Linked DNA regions of Homo sapiens. The protein of the gene in region 2 purifies or fractionates together with the protein of the main gene of each other region. This does not show direct contact. Each region holds a gene or a part of one and is shown on either strand. Other genes may lie near its edges.

Region 1 (3,814 bases), on a different chromosome or scaffold from region 2:
GAGGCTGAGGCAGGGGATCACTTGAGCCCAGGAGGAGTTTGAGACCAGCTTGGACTACAAAGTGAGACCACATCTCTACAAAAAATAAAAAAGTAGCCACGTGTGATAGCATGTGCCTGTAGTCCCAGCTACTCGGGAGGCTGAGGTGGGAGGATTGCTTGATCTCAGGAGGTCAAGGCTGCAGTGAGCTATGTTTACATCACCGCAGTCCAGCGTACGTGTCAGAGCAAGACCCTGTCTCAAAAAAAGTAAAAAGTCTACAGTAGTGTACAGTAATGTCCTAGGCCTTCACAATCCCTCCCCACTTACTCACCGACTCAACCAGAACAACTTCCAGTCCTGCAAGCTCCATTCATGGTAAGTGCCCCAAATAGGTCTACCATTTTTATCTTTTATGCTGTATTTTTACTGTACTGTTTCTATGTTTAGATACACAAAGACTTACCATTGTGTTATACTGCTTAGAATATTCAGTATAGTAACATGCTGTACAGGTCTGAAGCCTAGGAGTAACAGGCTATACCACACAGCCTAGGTGTGTATTAGGCTGTAGAATTAGTATGGTATAGCCTGTTGTTTAAGTATAACGTTCACATGACAAAATTGCCTAATCACACATTTCTCAGAACATATCCCCATTGTTAAGTGGCACATGGCTGTAATTAGAACACTAGATATAAAATGGAAGAAACACCATGAAAAAAGGGACAGATGAACTGCTGGGCATGGTCAGGGCAAGAAAACACTGCATTTGACGAGGGAAATCACAGCAGGTGGTGGTGGAATTTGACCTGGGTGATGGTAGGAAGTTGGCAAGTATAGATGAGAGGAGGCCATTCTAGACAGAGGGAAAAGCCAGTGCAAAGGCTTACTGGACAATGTTAAGTAGCCCAGTTTGACCAGGGCAGGTGGCACATTGAGGGTTGTTGCATGGGACTTTAAGGCTGGCATGGTAAGTTGAAGCCATGTAGCAAAGGATACTTACTGATGCCCAACAAAGAATCTGGATTTAATTCAGCCAGATTTTAAAGGTTTTTAAACAGAGGAATAGAGCAACTAACAAAGGAAGAACAGGTACCAGAAAGATCTAGTTACTGGCCAGGGTGGGCGGTCTCGAGGGCCTGATTTTGAAGGGGCTTTGGGTATGGAGGGAAGAGCATAGAGGAAAGAGACAGGTAAAACACACAGGTCTTGATGACTGACTGACGCAGAGGCAAACCAAACCGATTTTGAGGTCCTGAGCTGGAAAAACTGGAATCACTGATGCCAAAACAAGGAGGGGTGGGGGAAGTCGAGGAGGGGAAGGAGAGGGAGGGGAAGGAGGAGGAGGAAGAAGAAGGCAGAAGGAGGGAGAGGAGATGGGGGAGGGGAAGGGGAGGAGGGGGAGGGGGAGGGGAAGGGGGAGGAGAGGGAGGAGGGGGAGGAGAGGGAAGGAGGAGGAAGAAAGAGGAAGATAGGCGAAACATGAAAGGGAGATAGGGAGGAGAGGGAGGGGAAGGGGGAAGAGAGGGGAGGGTGAGGAAGGGGAGGGGGAGGAGGGGGAGGAAATAGGTTTGGAGGGAAGATGAAGAAAGGAAGAAAGATGATGAGGATCATTTTAGTTGAAAACGTTGGTTTTGTCTTTCCACTAACTTTTACCTAGCACCATTTTGCATGATACAGTTCAATCTTCTTGTTCCTTTCTATTCCAAAATAAAAGTGGATTTATAAGTAGAGCAGTTATGATGGAAAAAAATAAAGATTCAGGAGTTCCTAAACAGCCAAGTATTTATTTATTCTCTGTACATTAGTGAACTTAATTTGGGTCCAGGACCAAAAAAAGGTAATAAATTTTAAATTTGACTGTACCCAAATTAAGTTTATTACCAGAGAAAGCTGCTATTTCACTTCAAGGCTACAAAATAAAACGAATTGAAAAAAATGTTATCCTTTCTACCAAAAAATGGGAATCTAAAAGTTCAGTATGGCTGGGTGTGGTGGTTCACACCTATAATCCCCGCACTTTGGGAGGCCAAGGTAGGAGAATCATTTGAGGCCAGGGGTTCAAGACCAGCCTGGGCAACATAGTGAGACCCCCCGCCATTTCTAGTTTTAAAAATTAAAAATAAAATTTTAAAAATTGTTTAAAAAAAGTTCTGTATGAGTCCACCCACCAAAACAAGCAGTAGTCAAAACTGCACATAACTGGCAGTGTTACCTCTCCCTGGGATGACTAGATATAAACAAGAATCAAAGCTTTGAGTTCAAAGTATAAAACTGGAATTTCAGACCCAGTTAGCAGGTGAGGGAGGACTTTGAGGTATGAGGGTCTCCTACTCCACTCAAGGTTAACGCAAGCATGCATATGGCTTTTGTTTCACAGTAGATACACCATCGCAGCATATCTTTTTTCAACAAGCACTGTTCTAAATATAAATTTTTAAAATTTCAGTAAAGTAATAAGCTTTCATTCTCAAAGAAATATACTCTGAACCCACCCTTGTAATCCCAGCACTTTGGGAGGCCAAGGTGGGGGGATCACTTGAGGTCAGGAGTTCAAGACCAGCCTGGCCAACATGGTGAAACCCCGTCTCTACTAAAAATACAAAAATTACCTAGGTGTGGTGGCACATGCCTGTAATCCCAGCTACTCAGGAGGCTGAGGCAGGAGAACTGCTTGAACCCGGGAGGCAGAGGTTGCAGTGAGCCAAGATCACGCCACTGCATTCCAGCCTGGGAGACAGAGTGAGACTCCATCTCAAAAAAAAAAAAAGAAAAAGAAAAAGAAATATACTCTGAACCACAAAACCATTGAAACTGTTATATCATCCTTAAAAAACAGAATCAGAAATGTATGCTAGTTTACAATAGCTCCTTAAATATATGGACTTTTCTTATTTCTTTTGCAGAAGAGGGGTCAGGACATTCAGAGCCCTCCTGGAATCGGCAAGTAGTGGTGAGACTCAGGCAAAGACAAAAACCAGGGGAGCAACAGCACCGGGCTTTCTGCTACCTTCTCCCACCCTGGTGTGACAGTGGTCACAACTTCACATGAAATCAATTTCTGCTCTATAAGAGCTGACATGTCCTTCAATACCGACATTCAGGACAATCATGCGTAACATTTATAGCATGCTTACTCTGTGTCAGACACTGTTCTAGGCACTTCACAAGCATAGATTAATTTAATCCTCTCAATGATCCGAGACTAGGTAATATTGTCATCCCCATTATACAGATGACAAAACGGGGGCACAGGGTGATTAAACAATTTGCCAGAGCTCATCAGCAAGTAAGAGGAAAGCAGGGATCTGGATGCAGGCAGTTTAGCTTCAGAGGCAGCGTGCCTGATCCCAAGACTGTTCTGCCTCTCAGCTTCCTGCCTGTCATCCAAGGATCATACCAGGTCAGATTTCCAGACCAGGTCAAATTCCCACACTCTCACTAGCATTAAAAAAGAAACAGAAAAGCCTGGGAAGAAACATTTGGGACAAAATGATACAAATTTGGTAACGACCTACCAGTTGTTTTTGTACAACTCCTCAGCACCAATGAATAAATACAATGAAATAAGATTCCCGTTTAACTTTTTTTCCAGTGGGAGAGAAGGAGAGCAAGGCAAACAAATCGCCAAACACAGCAGAAAATAGTGTTTATCAGACAGATACCGAGACCCAGGGGTGTGCCGGGTTCTGTGGGCCACATGAGGGAGAGTATGGTGTCTGCCCCTCTCAGAGAGGACTGAATTGCAAAAGCAGACGTTGTCTCTAGTTCCTGGAAGAATGTACTTTGTTACATCCTGTAGGGACCAAACCTTCCAAGGTTTTAATGAAGG
Region 2 (3,814 bases):
GTATTATGGCAGCAATTGAAATAGATACAGATCTTTCACAGAGCTTAAAGTCTAGCAGAGATGGATAACACCGATGAAAATTTCTGGCAATGCAAATTTCTCCCACCCTTTGCTTCTCTGAGAATTCATTTCTCCTTGTGGCCTGCTGATGAAATAATATCATCTCCCCTGTGAGGTTTCCTTGATTTCTCTACTACAAATAATCGCTCGTTCCCTGAAATCCTGCAGCTGTTGTTCGTTTTCAGCAAATAACCCTAACAAACAATATTCTGCGGTTTTAAACGATTTCACACACATTTTGTTCATTGAATTGGGGCCTGCAGTCACCCAACTAGTTCTAATCCGGGTTGGAACCACGATTGGAACCTGGTAGGAGAGTCGGACTCCAGACTCGTGCTTCTATTTTAGCATATGGTTCCCAATCCAAGGAGCAAAACGTGTGAAATCACTTAAAACAGGTTATAATCGTGGCTCCTAAGTTAAACTTCTCTGAGCCTCACTTTTTACCCCATCTGAAACACAGGTGTAGCAACAGTTTCTATGGCCTGAAGTTGGGGTCATGCATGCCCAGCACAGACTAGGTGAGCTCTCGTTCCACCTTTCCAACAACCCTGGCGCCCCATTTTTTTTCCAGAGAAAGAAACAGGTGGCCGGGCGCGGTGGCTCACACCTGTAATCTCAGCACTTCGGGAGGCCAAGGCGAGTGGATCACGAGGTCGGCTTTGAGACCAGCCTGGCCAACATGGTGAAACCCCGTCTCTACTAAAAATACAAAAATTAGCCCGGTGTGGTGGCGTGCGCCTGTAATCCCAGCTACACAGGAGGCTGCAGCAGGAGAATCGTTTAAACCTGGGAGGCAGAGGTTGCAGTGAGCTGAGATAGCGCCACTGCACTCCAGCGTGGGTGACAGAGCGAGACTCCGTCTCAATAAATAATAAATAAATAAAACAATATAAATAAGAAACGGGGACTCAAAGAGACCAAGTCACTTTTTCAAGGTTACATTGCTCCTGAAGCTAAGAATGCATGCCTGCCTCGTCTCCCACTCCACCCCGCATACGCCTCCAAGTCTTCCTATTGATAAGGTGGCACACATGGCTGTCTTTTCATTTCACCGGCGCAGTTTGTGATTCTGCATTTATTTCTGCTCATTGGCTGCCTCCCTACCCTACGGGAGGGGTCCCGAGGCCGGACCCGCTGTCTCCGCAGCCGCTGTGCCCGGCACGTGCCCGCCTCCACCACGAGGGGGCGCTATGGGCTAGGGAGGCGCTGCAACCCTGGCAGTCCTTGAACGAGGAGCATCACCTCTCGGAGCTCCCGCTTCCGGCTCTGGAAACGGAATGATAGCTCTAACTCACAGCTGGAGCCCACCCACCCCCAAGTCACGGCGCCTCTAGGGCCTGCTTCCTCCCTCCCTTTCCCCACCTCAAGGCCCGCTTCTTGGGGCCTGGTTGCCCTTCGCCCAGCTATTATTACTGCGGGCGATGCGCCGGCTGGCCAATCAGGAGGCGCAGCGCGCCTGTGACGTCACGAGGTGCGAGGCAGATGAACGCCTGCCCCATCCCGTCCCTCCATTCCCGGGCCCACCGCGCCTGCGCATGCGTGCTGAGCGCCAGAAAAAAAAAAGGCGGGAAAGGACGCTTGCGGCGAGACTCTCCTGCGGGAGCGGGAGGCTTGGGCCTCTCAGGAGGGCACAGGTACGGGGCGCGGGGCGACAGAGGCAGAAACCCAGGCAGCCCCAGACGGCGAGCAGGGCGGGAGAGTGGAAGGGAGGGAGAAGACGGAGAAACAGCGACTGCGACGGGCACAGAGGGAGGACAGAAACGCTGCCCCTTAGGTGGGGAGTGAAACCTCCCGTGAGGGAGCGGCGAGGGCGGCGGGGACGGTGAGAAACGGACAGAGGAGCCCGCGGGAGACAGAAACGGAGGGAAGGGGGCTGACCATGAGAGAAACGAGGGGGAGAGAGAAGAGAGCACGCGGGAGACTGCAGGGAAGGCGCGGGAGATGGAGACTCAGAAAACAACCGTAAGAGACAAAGGAAAAGATACCACAGCGCTGGGCCTGGGGAGAGAACGCAGTGAGAAATGGAGACGATGAGAGTATGAGGTGATATAGCAAAACCGACCGTGAAAAATCGAGTGAGAAGCAGGTGGCGAAGCTGAGAACTGAAAGTGAAAGACAAGAGGACGGAAGATACAGAAACAGTTTGGGCCCAGTGGCTCCCGCCTGCAATTCCAGCACTTTGGGAGGCCGCAGCAAGCCGATGACTTGAGCCCAAGAGTTTGAGACCAGCCTGGGCAACATAGTGAGAACCCATCTCGACAAAAAATCAGGCCGGGAGCAGTGGCTCACCCCTGTAATCCCAGCACTTTGGGAGGCCGAGGCAGGCGGATCACGAGGTCAGGAATTTGAGACCAGCCTGGCCAACATGGTGAAACCCGTCTCTACTAAAAATACAAAAATTAGCCGGGAGTGGTGGCACACGCCTGTAATCCCAGCTATTCAGGAGGCTGAGGCAGGAGAATCACTTGAACCCGGGAGGTGGAGGTTGCAGTGAGCCGAGACCACGCCACTGCACTCCAGCCTGGGCAACACAGCAAGACTCTGTCTCAAAAAAAAAAATTAGCCAGGCATGGTGGTGTGCATCTGTAATCCCAGCTATTCAGGAGGCTGAGGTCGGAGGATCACCTGAGCCTGGGAGTTCAAGGCTGCAGTGAACTGAGATCGCACCACTGCACTTCAGCCTGGGCAACAGAGCAAGATCCTGTCTCAAAAAAGAGAGAGAGAAATTTACCATGAAAAATGGAGTGAGAAACAGAGGTGGTGAAGGTGAGATCTGAAAGAAAAGTGAAAGACTGAGGGGGAAAGACAGATAAATTGACCAGGAAAAACTAGGTGAGAAACAGAGATGAGAGTGTGAGACTGATAATGAAACAAAAAGACAGAAGGACAAGGGAGAAAAAAATAAAGAGAAACTGACCACGAAAACTGGAGTGAGAAATAGATGTAATGAGGGTGAGAAATTGAAAAAGAAAGACAGGGAAAAAGAAATGATGGGAATATGAAACTGACAACGAAAGAAAAAAAATGAGAAAGATGGTGAGAGAGAGCAAAAGAAATTACCATGAAAAAAATACGGCATAAAGACGAGTGTGAGAAATTGAAAATGAAAGGCAAAAAGAGATTGGCACAGAGAAGAAAAGATAGAGAATTTGATCATGGAAAATGAAGTGAGGCCAGGCATGGTGGCTCACACTTATAAACCCAGACATAAGCCCAGCACTTTGAGAGAGTGAGACAGGAGGATCGCCTGAGCTCAGGAGTTTGAGACCAGCCTGGGCAACATAGTGAGCCCGTCTCTACAAAAATTAAAAATGAGCCGGGTGTGGTGGCGCACATCTGTAGTCCCACCTTTTCAGGAAGCTGAGGCAGGAGGATCGCTTGGGCCCGGGCAGTCAAGGCTGCAGTGAGCTGAGATCACACCACTGCACTCCATCCTGGGCAATACAGAGATAGAGATGATGAGGGTGAGAAATGGATAATGAAAAAAAGAGACCAACAGCAAGTGAGAAACAGGAGCAGAGATGGATTCGCAGGGATCCTGAGAGATGGGGATACAAGGAAGACAGGCAAAGAAAAAGGCAGAAGAATGTGGTGACAGTGATGTGGGGGCCAAAGCGGGGCGTGGTCCCAGGTGTGGAAGGAGCTGCAGCAGCAAGACAGAGGCCATAGAGCAGAGGGGGATGGAGCTGTGGCCCTGGAGGCTGATTCTGCTGGCCAGAGGGAGGGGATGGCCAGGGTAAGGAGAGAAGCT

What was found.
Region 1: the proteins of SSC5D (region 2) and KLHL23 purify together in Homo sapiens (affinity purification with mass spectrometry; one large-scale study listed by BioGRID and IntAct). This does not show direct contact.

Annotation. Positions count from the first base shown.
Region 1 is NC_000002.12:169,736,558-169,740,371, reverse strand, and holds part of KLHL23 (kelch-like protein 23), read right to left. Parts: intron 1-3,814.
Region 2 is NC_000019.10:55,501,631-55,505,444, reverse strand, and holds part of SSC5D (soluble scavenger receptor cysteine-rich domain-containing protein SSC5D isoform 1 precursor), read right to left. Parts: intron 1,330-3,814; coding exon of another isoform or gene 1,259-1,329; exon of another isoform or gene 1,104-1,258; intron 1-1,103.